2 separate regions of the Homo sapiens genome follow, and region 1 is linked to region 2. The links come from fine-mapping of genetic effects on gene expression. A gene starts in region 2. The other region holds a variant in brackets. All regions are shown on one strand. Distances are from middle to middle. Region 1 overlaps CARMIL1 (capping protein regulator and myosin 1 linker 1). Region 2 holds the start of CARMIL1 (capping protein regulator and myosin 1 linker 1).

Region 1 (8,000 bases), 52 kb after region 2:
GGTTTCCAGGCAGATTCAATATATTGTGCAAAGGCCCTGAGGAAGTGTGTGGTTTTAGTGGAGAGCTAAAGAACCATGAGGCAAGAGCATCGGGATATCCAAGAAGTCATGCTGGATTACATATACTGGTCAGTAAGGAGCTTGGATTTGATTTTACTGGGGAAATAACATAATCTGATATGTTTAAAATGATTACTGAGGCTTCTAAGTAGAGCATTACACTGTTAACAGTAGTGGGAGTGAGAGGTCAGGCTTGGTCTAGGGCAGTGCTTCTCAATGTGTGGTCTCAGGATCAGCCCTATCAGAATGACCTGGAAACCTGTAAGAAATGCATACTTCAAGTCTTATTATGGACTTGCTGATTCAGAACCTGGAGGTGGGACTCAGCAATCTGCTTTAACAAGTCCTTTGGATGATCTGATATACAGAAAAGTTTGAGAACCACTGGTCTAGGGATTGCTGGAGGAGATGGTAAGCAGTAGATGGATTCTGGTGTATGTTTTGAAGGTAGGGATGATAGGACTTTTGTATATGGGAGCTGAGGAAAAAGGAGAAATCAGAAATATTATTATTATTATTAATGTTTCAAGACGGAATCCCACTGTCACCCAGGCTGGAGTGCAGTGGCATGATCTTGGCTCACTGCAACCTGATAAGGACCTTGTTTATTGTGATGAGGGAGACTGGTGGGGGTAGCAAAAGGACATAACTTTTGAACACATTGCGTTTGGAGTGTTCATGAAATGTCCAAGTGAAGATGTTGGCTGTTGATGGCAAAATGAGCGTACAGTCCAGAGGGAAGATGTAGTTTCAAATACAGCTCAGCAGAAAGATACAGTTTCCAGAAAGGAATTTGGGACTTGCCAGTGTACAGGGAGTATTTAAAGCAATTGAAATAGGTGTGATATCACCAAGGAGAGAGATAGCAAGGAGAGAGGGTGCAAGAGCGGGCAAAGGACCAAGCTGGAAGGAACTCTTGACATTCACAGGAGCAAGAGCCAGCAAAAGAACAGAAAGAACGGCCAGGGAGAGAAGAGAAGAAAACCAGGAAACTGGTTTCATGGGGAAATATTTCAGGAACAGAGTGATCAACTGTGCTTAATTTGTATGATGAAGCGGAGATTTGTAGCATAGAGATCACTAGGCATTCTATTTGGACTGTCAGTGAAATTGAAATAAAAAGTCAAGAATCAACTTGATTTCCATCACAGGTTTTAGATTAGAAGAAACCAGAGAAACACAGCCCCAATTTTCTATTTGCTAGTTTTCCAAACAGTAAGTTTTCATTGATTTCACTGGCTCCCCTCCGGCTACTATTTGCTGTGCACAAACAAAGTCTGAATGAGCATTTTGTAGTCCTGAAAAGGAGTAGCATATGGGCTTCAACAGCCGGTCATATTTTCTTTTATTACTATATTTAAAGCAACATTCAAGATTAAAAAAAAATTCCTGGCAACTAGCATAACAAGCTGCAATAAAATCATTCCTGGCTATTGATATGGGCTACTTTGTGCCTCATGTCATGTTATTGAATCCAACTTCTTGGAATTGACTGTCTTAATCTGTCACTTAGCAAATTTATATTGGTGAGGAAGAACAAAAACAGATTTATAACTTGCATATCTCTTCAAGCTTCTGTTAATATGCTCAATATTAGAATGTTCTACTTTTAGCGTTTTGGGTCATAAGCTATAGAACATTGGGGCTTGGTGAGAGGATATGGGCATGGGGAGAGGAATGAATATTTGGCATTATTTATGTTTGAACCATTGAGCTGGGGTCTTTAGGTTTATTATTTCATTTAATTCCCACTCTGACGTAGGTGGTATTTCCCTCATTAGTAGATAAGGAAATGAGCTAGTAAAGAAAACTATTTAAATCCAGATCTAAAATGGATCTTTATTCTGTGCCAAGCTCTTGGGGGAAGAGTATGTGTGGAGGAGGAGTTGTGGGGACTCACAGAGCAGTGGCAAGGCAAGCCAGAGATACAGCAAAGGGATATCAAGGACTAATGAGGTACTTTAAAGGAGATCGAGTCATGGTAAGGCATTTAAATTAGTTTTGTTAGCAAGTACTGCATGGAACAGGAAGACTCTGTACATGCTCAGTGTAGGGCTTGGTCCGTCAAGACTGGCTAGGAGTTTTCTAGATAGAGCCTTGAATCTTGCATTACAGTCACTACAGAGCATGAGCTCTGTGGACATTTCATGAAAAGCTTCCTTTCTACTTGGATATATTTTTTTACTTCTTGTGTGCATACTTGATTTATTTACTGTTCCTTATAGAGCTGCAAGGCCTTGTTTCTTTTCTATAGAAGTTATATTTCTCTGAGTTCAGATGTCACATCTTCGTTACCTTCTCTCAAGTTTTGCTATACAAGCTTAGGAACGTCATCTCTTTCTCTTCCAGAGTTATCTTCCATCATGTAGGCTTTGGAGCCACTTTCCTCAGAGCCTCCATTTGCCTCACCTCTTCTTGCCTGGGACCTTGTAAAAACAGTGATTGTGGTAATTAAATTGAGATATGAGGAATATATATAACTATTATGTAGTCATAATAATTAAAAATTTAAAAAAAATGCAATGAGAGGGGAAAAAAATCTCCTGGATTGGTGAGCTAGACAAAACTTCATGTTAATTAACATGGATGCTTTAATCCATCTATTCCTGAGTCCAGGACATCAAATCTTGGGTTCTACAATGGGTGCCAGTCTTAGGAGGGTCATATGTATTTCCAGTCACAAAAGATCTTTCTGTCATGTTGGAGAAGACAAAAGTTTATAAGAATCAGTGGGCCATTTAAAATGATAATGAGCAACTTAGGCGTAAAGCCAGATGTCACAGGCTGGTGGCTTGCAGCCTGCTCTACTGTGCTTTAAATACGCAGTATTTAAAAAATTGATGTTGGTTCCCAATATTTATAAATTGGGAGATATCAGCCATAAATCTAGATTCCATCCTCCCCCACCTTTAAAAAAAAGAAAGTTGGATCTGGGAACACTAGGTCTATGTTTGTGCTTAGCAGGAATCGGAAGAGCTGGGTTGTGACCAGGCTCTTTCTTTTAGCAGTGGCAAGCTCTTTTCAGCTTTCTGCCATCCCGAAAGCACCCTAGTGTTTCTCATTGGCCGTGATGCCCATGTTGACTGCAATTTGTCATTGTCCTCAAGGCTGTCGTTTTTTCCACAGAGCCGGCTTTGCTCTTTGACAAAGCTACTTTGGCCTCCTTATACATTTGAGTTCATTGATCCTTAGCCTAAATGATCAGGACATGACACATTCAGAAGTTTGTATTATCTTGTAAAAGCACATGAGCAAAGTCTGTCTAGTAAGTGACATTGCTGGTATTCAGACCAGGATATGGCTGAGAGGAAGCACATATGTAAATTGAATGCATCAGGGATCTTTTGGAGAAGTCAAACAAGAATTCTGATTACCTCATCAGTGATACCTAAATGCAGATTTCTTCTTGCTTCAGACAAAATTTTTCAAAGATACTCAAAGTATCTCAGCTCTTGTTGTATGTGTGTTTTGAAAGATAGGGTTGAAGAAAACAATGAAAAGATAACAGGGATATCTGTCCTCCAGAGTTGTTCAGGGGATTCAGCATATGAGAAGTTATTTGCGAAGTTTTAGTTCCCAGTCTGGGCATCAGCTCATTATCATTAGTCTCTGATATGAGTTGTTTAATGATGAACTTGTGCAAAGCACTTGATCCTATTCAGCGTCAGACATTCATTGTTAAAAGAACACATTGAGGACACTGTTGTAGGTCAGGAAATTGAAGGTAGGGAGTTGAGGGCAAGTAGAAGAGAGTTTCATTCTGGAGTTAGTTCAGTAAACATTGAATGCTCATGATGTGTCAGGCTTTATGCTGCTACCAGAGGCAGGAAGATAAATAAGACAGAACATGCAGACTTGAACAGTACGGTGTGGTAAGAGGTGTGCCCATGGTACTGTGCGATTATAGACTGGCGTTGGCCCAGTGCAGGGCTAGAGGGATGCTCCATGGTGATGACTGAGTTGAGCCTTAAGGCCCGGATGAGCTGGCCAGGTAGTGATGACAAGAGGGAGAGGGATTTAAAGTGTGAAGTTCAATTTAAGGAACAGAGATGATGCAGGAAGGGCTAAGATATGGAAGGCTTTGATGAAGATTTTGGGGAGCCAGGGAAGAAGGGGAGAGATGATCAGATTTCCATTTTGATTGCAGCTTGGTAACTGGATTACAGTGTGGCAGAACTGGAGGCTGGGAGACCAGGAAGGTTTCAACCAAGTTAGAAAATCATTTTTGGTTTAGAAGACAGTGAGGGGCTGGGTGTGGTGGCTCATGCCTGTAATCCTAGCACTTTCTCAGGCTGAGGCAGGAGGATCACTTGAGCTCAGGAGTTCGAGACCAGCCTGGGCAACATAGTGAGACGCACCCCCCCGCCCATCTCTATTAAAAAAAAAAAAAAAAGACAGATGAGGATGGGATCTGGAGTGGCACAAGCCATGATTTACCCCCTCATTAGGTGAGATACTTTTTGGAAGTGCTGACCTTTTGCCATTTTGAAGAACCAGCTTTTAGATGCTCCATTATGGACTTAGATTGAGGAAGATTGATCAATTTTATTATTTTGCTGCTTTACATTTTCAAGAGGTTTTTTTTTTTTTTTTTTTTTGAGGAGGAGGGAGGAGAAGGGAACTTACTGTAATGTAATTTTGCTAAAAGTTTCCCAGAAGTGAATCATGTTTATCAAGATAAATTGTAGAAAGAAGAA[A/G]TTTGTTTGCTTATAATATTGTTTCTATGGGAAATCATTCTTCAACAACAAGCAGCAAACTTCCTGGGAGGAGGCACTCAGTATATTCTTCTGCCCCTGAGGAAGTTGAGGATTGAAGTATCTCCCTTGCTTGTACTCTGGGACTAGTTGACTCTAAGCCTCCTTCCAGCCTCCTGCTGTCAAAACAACTTTTCTTCTGTTTATTTTCATATAGGAGCTGCACAACTCAAATGTTATGTGTTATGCCAGGACCTCAGTAGCAGGTGGGGGTGAAAAGCCCTGCACAGTATTTACTGGGAAAGGATTGCCTGTTCCTGAGGCACTGCCTCCATGATAGACGCTCCACTGATGCTGCAGCCCATGATAGGCTAAAGAGATTTTGTGGGTACTAAGTTCTATTAAAATTTAGTTCAGGCTGTCATCGCTGTTCTCCAGGAAACCTCAGTACCCTTTTAATTAGCCCCACCCAGGCTGTGACCTCACCCTGATCCATTGTCTGTACAGCTGCCAGAGTGATTTTCTGAACTGCACATCCAAGTGTATCATTCTCCTACTTAAAATCCTTCAGCAGTTCCCCAGAGCTAATCCATGGGAGTGGGAAGGCAAGAATCTGAGTCTCTTGCAGGACCCGTGAGGCATCCGTCCCCCAAGGGAGCCGAAGTTCAGTCCTTCCTATTAGATCTCTAGAAAGCTACGTGACTGGACCCCATTATTCTACACTCCCTGAAGCCCACTTACTTTAATTTTTGATGCTTGTCTTTGGCTTTTACAAATTGATATGAGAAGCCAACTGTGAAGTTCAGGTCCATGTTGTTTGTTAAAGGAATCATAAGTCTGTTTTGCAATTCAATGCTTTCTTTAAGGACCTATGAATACTTGTTAAATGAATAGTTCATATTCTAAATTGCTTTTAGCATTTAGTGCCAGGAAAAAAGAACTTTTCTCATTTAAAAATCTTGTGTGCTTCGTTTAAAGAATCAATTAAAATAATAGGGTGTTTGGTTTTTTAAAAACATAAATTTTGTTTTTTTAGAGATGGGGAGGTGGTCTCACTCTGTTGCCCAGGCTGGCCTTGAACTCCTGGACTCCAAGTGATCCTCTCGCCTCAGCCTCCTGAATCACTAGGACTATTGTGTATTTGCCTTTTGACTTTTGTTGCCAGGAGCCTCAAATCTAAAGATAGGTCATAATAGTCATAAAAGTAGTGATGAACTGGAAATCTGCTGTTTTTGTCTTTCCAGCCTAGGAGCCTTTTCCCCATTTACTCGTTTGTTTACAAATATTTTTTGAGTGGTTGTCATGTGCTGGGCACTGAGAAAGCTGTAGTGAATAAGATGGGTAGGCAAAAATGGAAGTGGTTCGATTGTGCTCATCCAGGTATGAGATAATAGTGGCTTGGGTGAGTGTTTGCAGTGAAGGTGTAGAGAAGTGGGTGAGTTCTGAATGTATTTTTAAGGTAGAAGCAAGTGAATTTGCTGATGATCAAAAGTGGGGAATGAGGGAAAAAGAAGAATCCAGGACGATTCCCAGGTTTTGATTAGGTATGTGATACTGACTTTTGCTGAAACTGAGGGACATGTTGAGGAAGAAGGGAAGGACAGCTGAAAACATTTGGGAAATGTTAATTTGTAATACTTGTTACATATCCAAATGGAGATGTCATTTAGTTTTCCAGAGCTCAGGGTAGAGATTCTGTCTCCATTCCATAGCACCACCCACCATGCAAACATGCATACACACACACACACACACACACACACACACGCGCACACACACACACACACTTCTTTTAGGGAACTTCTCATGTCCACAGCAACCATGTGATTCTACTATGGTTTCAGCTTCTTCAGCCACAAAAGACCTGATACTTCCGTGCCTGCTGGCCTTTGTGCTATAGTCTCCTGGCCACAGTGATTAGTCCAGGGGGTGGACATATGACCCAAGAGTCCTTCATTGGGGTCTAGGGAAATACCGCCTTGAAGAGAGAGGCTCTCTTTTTCTGCTGGAGAGACTAAATGGTTTACACTCAGATGTGATTCCTGCTACGTGGAGGAAGTCCATCTGAATAGTACAGATTGATGACCTTGCCCAGAAAAGCAGAGATTCTACAGAAATGTGGAAAGTCCCCTCCCTGCTGTTTACTACACTGTATCCCTTGGAATGCCAGCGCTTAAAGGTGTTAAGTGAGTAAAACTTCTTTGGTCAAATAAATTTAAAGAAAGAAATTTCTTGACAGCAGAACTTTTCAGATGAGCCTTTGTAATGAATATGCGGCTGGGCATAGTGGCTCATGTCTGTTATCCCAGCACTTTGGGAGGCTGAGGTGGGTGGATTGCTTGACCCCAGGAGTTCGAGACCAGCCTGGGCAACATCACAAGACCCCTTCTCTGCAAAAAATACAAAAAATACAGAAAAATCAGTGATGAGTGCAGCTGTAGTCCCTGCTACTTGGGAGGCTGAGGCAGGGGCATCGCTTGAGCCTGGAAGGTCGAGGCTCCTGTGAGCCAAGATTGTGCCACTGCGCTCCAGCCTGAGTGACAGAGCAAGACACTGTGTAAATAAATAAAAATATGTTTTGTGCTTCTTTAAGAGGAGGATTAGTAAACAGTGTTCCCCAAATCTATTTGACAGTGGAGGGTTTTTTTTTGTTTTTAAATGGGACATCTATAAATATCTCTCAGTTGGAACCCAGCTTGAAATATTGCTTGAAATGCTATAACAGGTTGTCATTTTTTTGTAGTCATAGTGGGGATGGGTGAGTTGTTCTTTATTTCTGGCAAAACTGGTAGGCTCCATATAACTGTCATTACTTCCTGATGTTTTATAGCTTGTTAAGGAGACAAAAGCCTTTTTTCTTCTCCTAGTATTTTAACATGTTAGTACCAGATATTATCTATGCTTAGGTATGAATTTTGGCTCAGAGATTTTCTCAGCATCACACCAATGATAAGTTTCATGATCCTAGAATGTACTTTCCCTGTATTCTTTCTCCTCTGCTGGTGTTCTGTGAGTCCACGTGTATGTGTGTGCAGGACAACACTTAAAGTGGTTATTCTTTCTTCAAAGACTCAGTTCAACACACCCCTGGTGGCTGTTGTAGCTCAGGGTTGAGTAGTGATCCTGGTATTAAAGATGAGAAATTTGTTAGGTAGCCGCTATGAGCTGCAAGGTTTCCTGAGGCAGAGGTATCCGGAACAGAGTCAGGGAGGCCATGGGGCCAGAGGCCTTCCTGATTCTGGACAC
Region 2 (9,670 bases):
GTGCCACTATGCGCGGCTAATTTTTGCATTTTTTTGTAGAGACGGGGTTTCACTATGTTGCCCAGTCTGGTCTGTCCCAAACTCCTGGGCTCAAGCAATCCACCCACTTCGGCCTCCCAAAGCATTTGGAATTACAAACGTGAGCCACTGCACCTGGCCTTGCCATGCTCTTCAAATTACATTCTTCTCTATCTTCCTTGATATCACAAACAAAGATTTTCTTCATGGTTAGATGGGCACCAGGCCTTATAGAATCCTCTCTAGAAACAGCTCTCTTTGGTTCCAGTACACACCTGTCAGCCTTGTGTGTCCACCTCTTTAACACGAGAGTAAGTCACAAAACCAAAGCCTCTGGAATGTGTTGTTTGGGAGTCTCTCATTATCACACAGCCTGTGAGTATGTGCCATTTCTCAAACTATCGTCTGTATTTTCAAAGCTGTGAACACAGTAAACAGTTTTCTCAAGTGCTCTGGTTCCTTTGGATCATGTGCCTCCATTTTGAGCCCGGACTCGCCTTTTCCAAATTGAGTTCAATTTGGGACTGAGAGGAAGAGCAGTCTTCTTTTTTAAGAATAGTTTTAGGTCTACAGAAAAATCGAGCAGAAAGCACAGAGAGTTTCCATATGCTTCCTACCCCAGCGGTGTCCCCTATCATTGTTTTGCATCAGTGTGGTACATTTGTTGCAAGTAATGGGCTAGTAATAATATTGATACAACATTATTAAAGTCTATAATCTACATTAGAGACTTGATGCTGTTTTATTCTTCTCCTCTCATTGGAAAGTGGCAGAAATAAATGTAAGTATTAAATCTTCGAGGGTTAACAGAAAGTCTTCTATGTAGGCCTTTGGCTACTTCTCTCCTTTTTGTCACCCTCAAAATTCTAGAGTCATATGTATTCCCTTTTTCCCTTCATCTTTTCCATCTCTTCATTATGCTTCAACCCATTGTACTTTATCTTCTCTGTCATTTTACTAAAATATATCTTTCCACAGAAAACAATACCTCCTTTATTACTAAGTTCAAGTATGCATTATTATTCCTTATCAAATTTAACTTTGTAGCAGCACAGGACACTGTTAACCCTTTCTCCCTTCTTGAATTATTTTTTACTTAACTTCCCAACTTGGTATCTTACCTTCCTGATTCCCAGCTACTCTAATCATTGATCCTTTACTTTCTCTACATTAGCCCCATTCTCTCTCTCTCTCTCTCTCTCTCTCTCTCTGCTTTAGCCAGTCTCTAAGATGGTCCTCAATGATTCCCAACTCTTGGTATTCACATTCTTGTGTGTCACCTTCCTCCATTGACCTGGGTTGATCCATGTGACCAGTAAAATAGAACAGAAGTGATGGTATGTCATTTCCAAGATTAAGTTATAAAAGATGTTGCATTTTTTTTTTGTCTTGGTCTTGCTCTCTTTCTCCTCTAGACTGCTCCATGAGGGCTGCATGAAGCAGCCACATAATTTACCATTACAACCTCTGGCAAATAGTAAGTGCTCAACTCATATTTGCTGAGTCAATTTATATAAGAACCTTTCCACATTTTATTGCTTCCTCTCTCCCCCTCCTACGAATTTCTATAGCACTTACTGAACGCATTTTGACATCTAGCACATTTTGTATTTATTATTTTATAAAAGGGCTTGGCTCAGTTGAGCCTTCTGAAGGAATGTTCCCTCACCTACTATGTGGCTGGCACTGGGCTAGTTGCAGGTCAATCGAAGCTCATCTTGATCATCCTCCTAGAGAAGGAGCTCCTTGTAGGTGAGTGGGGCCAAGCCCTGGTCACCTGTATGCTTCCCAGGGAACCTAGCCTAGGAGCCTGTAGAGTAGCATAAAAACGATATTAAAATGGGTTGGGTGTCGTGGCTCACACCTGTAATCCCAGCACTTTGGGAGGCCGAGGCTGGCGGATCACTTGAGGTCAGGAGTTTGAGACCAGCCTGGCCAACATGGTGAAACTCCATCTCTACTAAAAATACAAAAATTAGCCCCATGTGGTGGCACACACCTATAGTCCCAGCTACTCTCCTTGGGAGGCTGAGGCAAGAGAATCACTTGAACCCAGGAGGCGGAGGTTGGAGTGAGCCAAGATCGCGCGCCACTGCACTCCAGCCTGGGTGACCAAGCAAGACCCTGTCTCAAAACAACAACAACAACAACAACTATAGTAAAATGAACATTTACCTGGAAATCTCAAATTCTGAGTTCAATCTTTGACCCTTAAGGCTGTGACTCTGGGCAAGTCACTCCACAAATGTGAACTTATTTCCTCATTGTGATAAAGATATAGTAATTATACTTTTTACCCAAGGAGTCACTGGGTAGCTCAGATATGTCAAACCCTTATTTCCTCACTTGTCATAGGTCACTTATTGTCAGATGAATCATGGATTTCATAATATATTTTGCATTTGTGTTGGGAATGGGGTGTGAAGAGCATGATTTTAACCATCTATATCAATTATAAAACATTCAGATTTCAGTAACTTTAACATAAGAAAATGTTTCTTTGAATCAAGACAACACGTTATCTATTGAAGTGTTCAAGTGTTCTGAAGTTGGAAAACCATTGTAAAACTGGGAGCTCTAATTATGTCACATTCAAACAGATGTGTTCTGAATTAATGACTGAGTTGATTTTCCTCTTTTTTGTTCAGTCATGTGTTAAGGATTCGTTCTGTTTTATTATTGTTATGAAACATTGCAAACACATACAAAAGTGAAAGCAATGCCTTCCCATGGATCTGATATCCAGCTGCAACAAAAATCAACACAAGGTCACTCTGATTTCATCTATATCTCTACTCAATACTCTCCACCCCCCACCATCCCTATGGGCTATTTTCAAGCAAATCTCAGGTCTCATATAATTTCATTTGTAAATACTTTAAAGGAGTATTGTTTAATAGCCATTTACCTTCCACCGTCTTCTAGTCAGAGATAAACTAAGTTTTCTTAGAGGTGTTTGCAAGCTTAGTTCACATTGCCTACCCTCCTGAAAGATCTTTATTAACCAAGTTGAAAAATACACCTTCTTAAGAAGGCCCCTTCCCCAATGGTTACTGGGGGTGGAAGGTAATCTTAAAATCATTACTTGGGGAGTAAAATGCTGGTGGTTCCCACATTTCTGAATACCTTTCCATTTTAAAACCAGTTCTTAATGCAGTAGACGAGATCAGAAACTGACCTACGTAAGTTTGTGATTTTTTTTTTTGTTAGAGTGCTGATTTCTTCTTAACTTTTTTGTTTGCTTTATCTCCATGGGTTTAATCATTACATGATATGGTTCTAATGATAGCATGTTGTGTCATTTTAGGGACACTATTTTCTGCAAACTTTTTTACTCAGAGTGTTTTCTGACCATAATGCATTACAAAATGTACTATATAGATGTGAATATATGCTTAGAATTAAAAATAAAAATCCATGGATAAGTTTTCAAAATAATGTTGCCACTCACTGTATGTTTCAAAAGAGATGGGGTTTCACTATGTTGCTCAGTCTGGTCTGTCCCAAACTCCTGGGCTCAAGCAATCCACCCACTTCGGCATCCCAAAGCATTTGGAATTACAAATGTGAGCCACTGCACCTGGCCTTGCCATGCTTTTCAAATTACACTCTTCTCCATCTTCCTTTTCAAAATAATGTTGCCACTCACTATATGTTAAATGTTAAACATTTTACAGATTCAAATGCAGTAGGGATTCTCTGAAAAAGTTTTATCTTACTAACAGCTTTCAGATTATCAGTACTAGTTGTATGGCTTAAACACAGCCACATGTAAATACTTACTTAGATGAAGCTATGGCTAATCACATATGTAACACAATCAGTTTCATGTAGTGGTTTGATCACTCGTGTATTCAAGACTATATAAACAGGGATGAATTTGAGGAAGTTGGAGTGATGGAGTGAGAAAAGTTTGTTTTTGCAGCAGTAGCAGTAGAAGGGGCAGGCCGATTCAGTAAACAAGCACACATTTCAGAATGCAAACTGCATTCTCCAAGCTGGCACCATGGTTTTACGGTGCTAGGGATGTTTACTGCTTGTTGGGTTTGCAGCTTTATAAACAGTGCTCCTTGGAGTTCTCTGCTTGCTATTCTGAAACATATTTGAGTTTTGCAACCGAGAAGTAAATGACTTTGATTTCCAAAATCAGTCAGTCATTTTTCAGTGTTGTGATAGGAGATTCATTTGAATTCACTTCTTCAGAGATGCAGGAGCCAATCAGGATCCTGTTGCAGTGAAAATGATTCTTTTATTGAAACCCCAGCTTCCTTTAAAAGAAGCCAAAGAGTACTGAATTACAGAACTGCCATACAGCCTTCCCTTTATTCTTTCCATCACCCAGGCCACAGGAAAAAAAAAAAAAAGACAAACTTTTGTTCTTATTTTCACAAGTTATCACATGGTTTGGAAACTTCAGGGCATTTCTGAAACTTCATTGGTATGTGCCAGAAAAGTCCTCTTTAACACACCAGGTTGAATGAAAGACAGTTTGAGATGTTAATTTCCATTTACTGCAGAAAAAATATATTTAATGCATTAAGGAAATGTCTAGCTTAAAGAAATTGCCCACTTTTGAAACAAATGGTTGGAGGCCTGAGGTCCAAAGCTCTAAAATCAGTTAACAAATGTTTATTGAACACCTATTTTGAACTAGGCTGTTGAAGAAGTTCAAAAGTCTAAGATAAATTCCCACTTTCAACTCACCTACAGTCTAGTTGGGCAGAAAAAATCCAAACTCAGGGGACAATGCAAGAGTTAGATAGTAAAACCAGACAAATACACAAGCAATGAAACACGACACCATATGGTTGGGTTTAGAAAAGTGTTTCAGGCAATACATATTGTAGAGGCTTAGGGATCACAGTAATCTGAAAATCCCTGGAAAATATTCACAAAGAAGGTAGACCATTGGGATGGGTTTGAAAACATAGATAAGAATCAGATAACCTTAAGAGGAAGGAGGAAGCAAACAGTGAGTCTGGTTGTAATAGAGAAGGGAGTGGGAGAGGTTAAGGAGGGTGGGAAGGGGCCAGGTTGGCAAATCCTTAGTGGTAAGGCCTGGCTGTGGGGCTGAAGATGATTCTAAGGGGTCCAAGGTCAACAGCAGTGTTTAAAATTAGATTGCCAAGTGCATGGATTCCCTTTCCTTTCCTCCTTTTCTGTCCTTTAAAAGCAGAACCTGATTAGACAGTCTGGGACATTCCCAGCCCTAGGCTAAAAAGCAGCGATTGAGGCACAAAGTATTCTTGGCCCTGAAGTTGAACCTCTGGGGATGGAGCTCAGGGAAGTCATAGGGAGTTTGGGCCCAGGTAGGATCAGACCTATCCGCAGGCTTACATAGGCTCCAGTGATTAAAGCTCAGCTTCCTGAATATGCCCCGAGGATAAAAGAGACTTTTCCGAGTGAAAGGCATTTTCCAAGGCGCTCTCAACGGGAATGTCTGAGATAGCGAACTGCGGCTGCAGAGCACCAGCTGAACGCACACACACAAGTGTCTTCTCACGGTATGATTAGTGTTCACAGGTTTCGTCTAGCTCATCAGAAATGAAGAATAGCGATGATGAAGTGACATGTCACCGGGAGGGTTGAAAAAGAAAAAGTGCGTAAGAGGGTCCCAAAAAGAACCAGCTTCCGTGTAGACGGGTCTGCAGAATCTGCCGTCTCCCGTCTTCTGGGTCCCCTGGCCCGCCCGGAGTGGGGACAAGGAAATGGAAAGCCCGGCTCACCCGGCTCTCCTCCCTCGCAGCCAGCAGATGGCTCCCGGGCTCTCTCGCGAGCCCGCTCGCCCCCTCTCCAGACGCAGGGCTTTTGCGGTTTGGGAGGGAGGCTGCGAGGAGGGGCGCGGTGCCCGCCGCCGCCACCGCAGCACCGCACAGCGTCTCTCCTGGGGGTGCGACCTACGCCGGGGACCCAGCGCTCGGGCACCGGAGGCCGGCCTCGCACCGGTGCGGAGGCCGGCTCTCGCGAGGTGAGGAGGAAACGCAGGAGGAAGAGGAGAAGGAGAAGGAGGAGAAGGAGGAGGGCCGGAGCTGCCCCCGCCCAGCCGGAGCCCGGCAGGAGCGCGAGGAAAACCTACTCCCCCCGCCCCGCGCCGCTCTCCCCGCCCTCTCCCACGCCTTCCGCTTTCACCTAGGGCTGTAGGTGCGGCGCGGAGGCTGGGCGGGAGCTACGCCGGCCCAAGCCCCGCCGGGGACCAGCGAGCCGGGAGGAGGAGCAGGCGCCACAGCCGCCCCGCGCCCCGCGCCCGCTTGTAATCCGGTCCGCTCCTTATTCAGCCGCCGGGAACTGCGAGGAGGCGTCATGTAGCAGCAGCAGCAAATCCGCCTCGCATTTGCAACTCTTTTTTTTTTTTTTGGTGGGGCGGGGGGCGCGCGGCAAAATTCTGTCTCCGCCCCCCCTTTTCTTGCCCACTTCCATTTGCAAGCTGCATCTGCCTCTCTAAAAAAATTGAGGAGTTCGGGGAAGGGCAGGGGGCCATAAATCAGAGTTGGACCTGCAATAACCCCCACACCTACAGGGCAACCATGACCGAGGAGAGCTCTGACGTTCCCAGGGAGTTGATAGGTAAGATTCACGCGGTTGTTGGTTTTCCACCTTCCTCTGCGTACTCCTCACCTCTCTCTCCCTTCCCACCTCTGCTTTCCCGCAGGTCTCGAGAAGTCTTGGCGCCCCTTAGGGCAGAGTGGTGTTGGGCAGGGTCACTGGGGGTGCCGGGAAGTTTGTTCCCATCCGACCGCCTGTAGAGCCAAGTGCAGAGAGGGAAGGCTTCGGGGAGGAATCGGGAGTCCTCGGGAGGTGGGTGGGAGGAGGGTCTCGACTGTGAGCCCTGGGCACCTCCTCTTGCCCGGAAGCGGGGATCCAGGTTGGCGAAAGAAGGGGGCGGGCCATCTTAGACTTGGGAGTTCTGCAAGCGAGGGGAGCCCTTTACAGCTCCCAGCCCACTGCCCCAAACTCGGGAAAGTCCGGGAAAGCCTATTGGAAGGACAGGTGGCGAGCGCACAGTAGGTCGTCTCCGGCACGTGTCAGGCGCTTTCCTGAAAATGCCCCGCGGGAGGTGATCTTCTGACACGCAGACTTGGGGGAGTGGGCGCTAGTCTGGTAAAATGACTGGGCTTGGCAAGGTGTGGCTTGGTGTAGCCAGCTGGGAGCGAAAGGGTTACAGGGCTGACGCAGACTCAGGCCAGGAAATAGAGGGTTAATGATAAAAGCCTTATTTTAATAATGATTAACCTACCGATTCTCCCTATAGGGGATCTCTTAGGGAACCCGTGTGTGTTACGCTGTGCAAGGTGACCCATTGTTTGAGTACCTTGAGGTTTTTTTTTTTTTGGTGGTGGTGGGGGCGGGGCTGGTTAAGTCTTGGGGTTTAACTTAATTATCTGGAGGGTTAAAATGGCAGAGCTGAAATAGGATGGGAGAGTGTTCTGAAAACCTAGCGTTTAAGCATGTATATGTGTGTAGCATGTTATACTGTAACAAGGTATGTGCGTCTGTGTACAGATGTGTTTTGAGCCCTAGTGACCTATATTCCCTCCTGTACCATTCTTGGCACACTACACAGCCTACAGCTCACAAAGATGATGTTTAATCGGCGCTGACAACAAGAGGAAGTTCTGAGCACCCGTTGATCTCCATGTGTGGAATTTGCCCCTCTGTTGTTTCTTTTAGCTAATAATACTTTGGAGGAATTTGTGTATGCCCTTCCGTTGGTGACTGTTAACTCAGCAGGTAAAACTTGATGTAGAGAGGCTGTTGCTAGGTTTGTATGGAAGCCCCTACTTCTGCTGAATTACAGACAAACCTGATCTTTTACCAGAATTTACAGTATGAAATTATTCACAGACGCACGCGCGTGTGCGCGCGCGCACACACACACACACACACACACACACACACACGCACCTCTCATCATGATCCCAGCAGATCCTCTTCTCTCTCCCCAACCCTGTGGAGTCTGCATCTTTTGCTGGAGTGAGTGACACATCCGGTTCTGGGAGGCTGCGACCTTTCCAACACCCCAAGCAAACGCCAGAGGCTCTGAAGACGCCTCCAGAGGTCCTGAGAATGAGTGTAGGGCAGGGCTTGCCTGGCTGGTCAGGGGATAAGGATGGCTAAAGTGGGTGGCAGATTTTTACTTTATATAAGGAGTTGTCCTTAAGTCTGGAAATGGAAAGTGTAGGTAATTACTTAGGCCCAAGAGAAAGAGTGAAGGGTAGAGTGGAAATAAGGTGTCTGGGTTTCTATTCATGGTTCTCAAAAGGAATAGTTTGTATATTTTAAAAGTTGAGTTTGACCTTTATCTTGAAATGGAATTTTTGTTTTTATTAAGTATTGCCTATCTCTTTCAAGAGAGTGACATATTATGCCCGATATGATTTTTCTGGGCCTTTCAGTGGTCAAGTTAGGCTGGGATAGAATAAATACCTGCACCTGCTTTCCTCTAAATTCAAGTGCTCACAAGAGTTCTGCTCTGATCAATTCAAAATGGCGACCGACCACATGAAAACCTCTATATATTCCCTTAAGATTCCCTCAAGATATTTAAAAAGTGTTACAGACTTGGCTGAGCGTGGTGGCTCACCCCTGTAATCCTAGCACTTTGGGAGGCCGAGGCAGGTGGATCACCTGAGGTCGGGAGTTGGAGACCAGCCTGACCAACATGAAGAAACCCGGTCTCTACTAAAAATACAAAAATTAGCTGGGCGTGGGGGCACGTGGCTGTAATCCCAGCTACTCGGGAGGCTGAGGCAGGAGAATCACTTGAACCCGGGAGGCGGAGGTTGCCGTAAGCCGAGATCAAGCCATTTCATTCCAGCCTGGGCAATAAGAGTGAAACTCCATCTCAAAAAAAAAAAAAAAAAAAAAAAGTGTTATAGACTTTATGTAGAAACAATTTAAATGTAGAGAAGAATAAGAAGACTATATGTCACTCCTGTTACCACTTAGAGGTAGTTATTTTAAAGGGTATATGATTTTCCAGTCTGTTTCCATGTGTATATGTTCTTAAGTCAATTTCAGATGCCCATTTCCCGCAATTCTTTTTTAGGGGAGGGAGGAGTGGCCTGTGCTTGTTTCTCGAGTTCTGATAAGATAGGAGCTTTGTGAAGAACTCATAGTGCAGTGAGCTCTTCTACATGTTCCCTTGCCCCAAACATTCCACCTCCTTGCTGTTCCTTGAACAGGCTGTGCTTTCTCAGATTTCCATGCTGTTCTTTATGCGTACACTGTCTTTTTCTCCCCGTTTTCACTCTTTATCTCAGCAGCTCTAAACTTTCATGGCGGTATTTCCAAGAAGAAAATTTTGATTACCCCTTATTAAACATATATTTGTTAAACTACATGCTCCATTTAGTGTGTATAATCTAAAACACAAACTGAAACACACATTGTAAGTAGAAATGAAAATTCTATTTTCTTCTTTCATCTCAATGGATTATATTGTACACTCTACTTTGGAAACCAGTGATCTTATTTCCTATGCCTTCAAGATTCAGCTCAGGGATCCTCTCCTCCCTGAAACCTTTGCGTGCTTCCGAATCCATGATCTTATGCATTGTGTGTGAATTTCTTTTATGACATCTCTCAGTGACCTCCACTAGATTGCAAACTCCTGTGAAATGCAAAGACCATCTCTATCTAGCACCTAGTAGAG

Evidence for each region.
Region 1: its variant is fine-mapped to the expression of CARMIL1 in monocytes after Pam3CSK4 (Quach 2016, PIP 0.95).

Annotation. Positions count from the first base shown.
Region 1 is chr6:25,326,252-25,334,251 of GRCh38, forward strand. The region is part of intron 2 of CARMIL1 (capping protein regulator and myosin 1 linker 1); the gene reads left to right. It overlaps LOC124901281 (a long non-coding RNA gene), which reads right to left. Exons shown (of 3, transcript XR_007059512.1): 3 at 1,455-2,486. Among named protein-coding and RNA genes, the nearest start is that of CARMIL1, 51 kb to the left of the region's middle. The variant A/G (reference allele first, on the strand shown) is at 4,758.
Region 2 is chr6:25,273,254-25,282,923 of GRCh38, forward strand. It overlaps CARMIL1 (capping protein regulator and myosin 1 linker 1), which reads left to right and starts at 6,121. Exons shown (of 37, transcript NM_017640.6): 1 at 6,121-6,582. The coding sequence starts at 6,543. It also overlaps the pseudogene HNRNPA3P17. RefSeq lists a silencer at 5,849-6,318.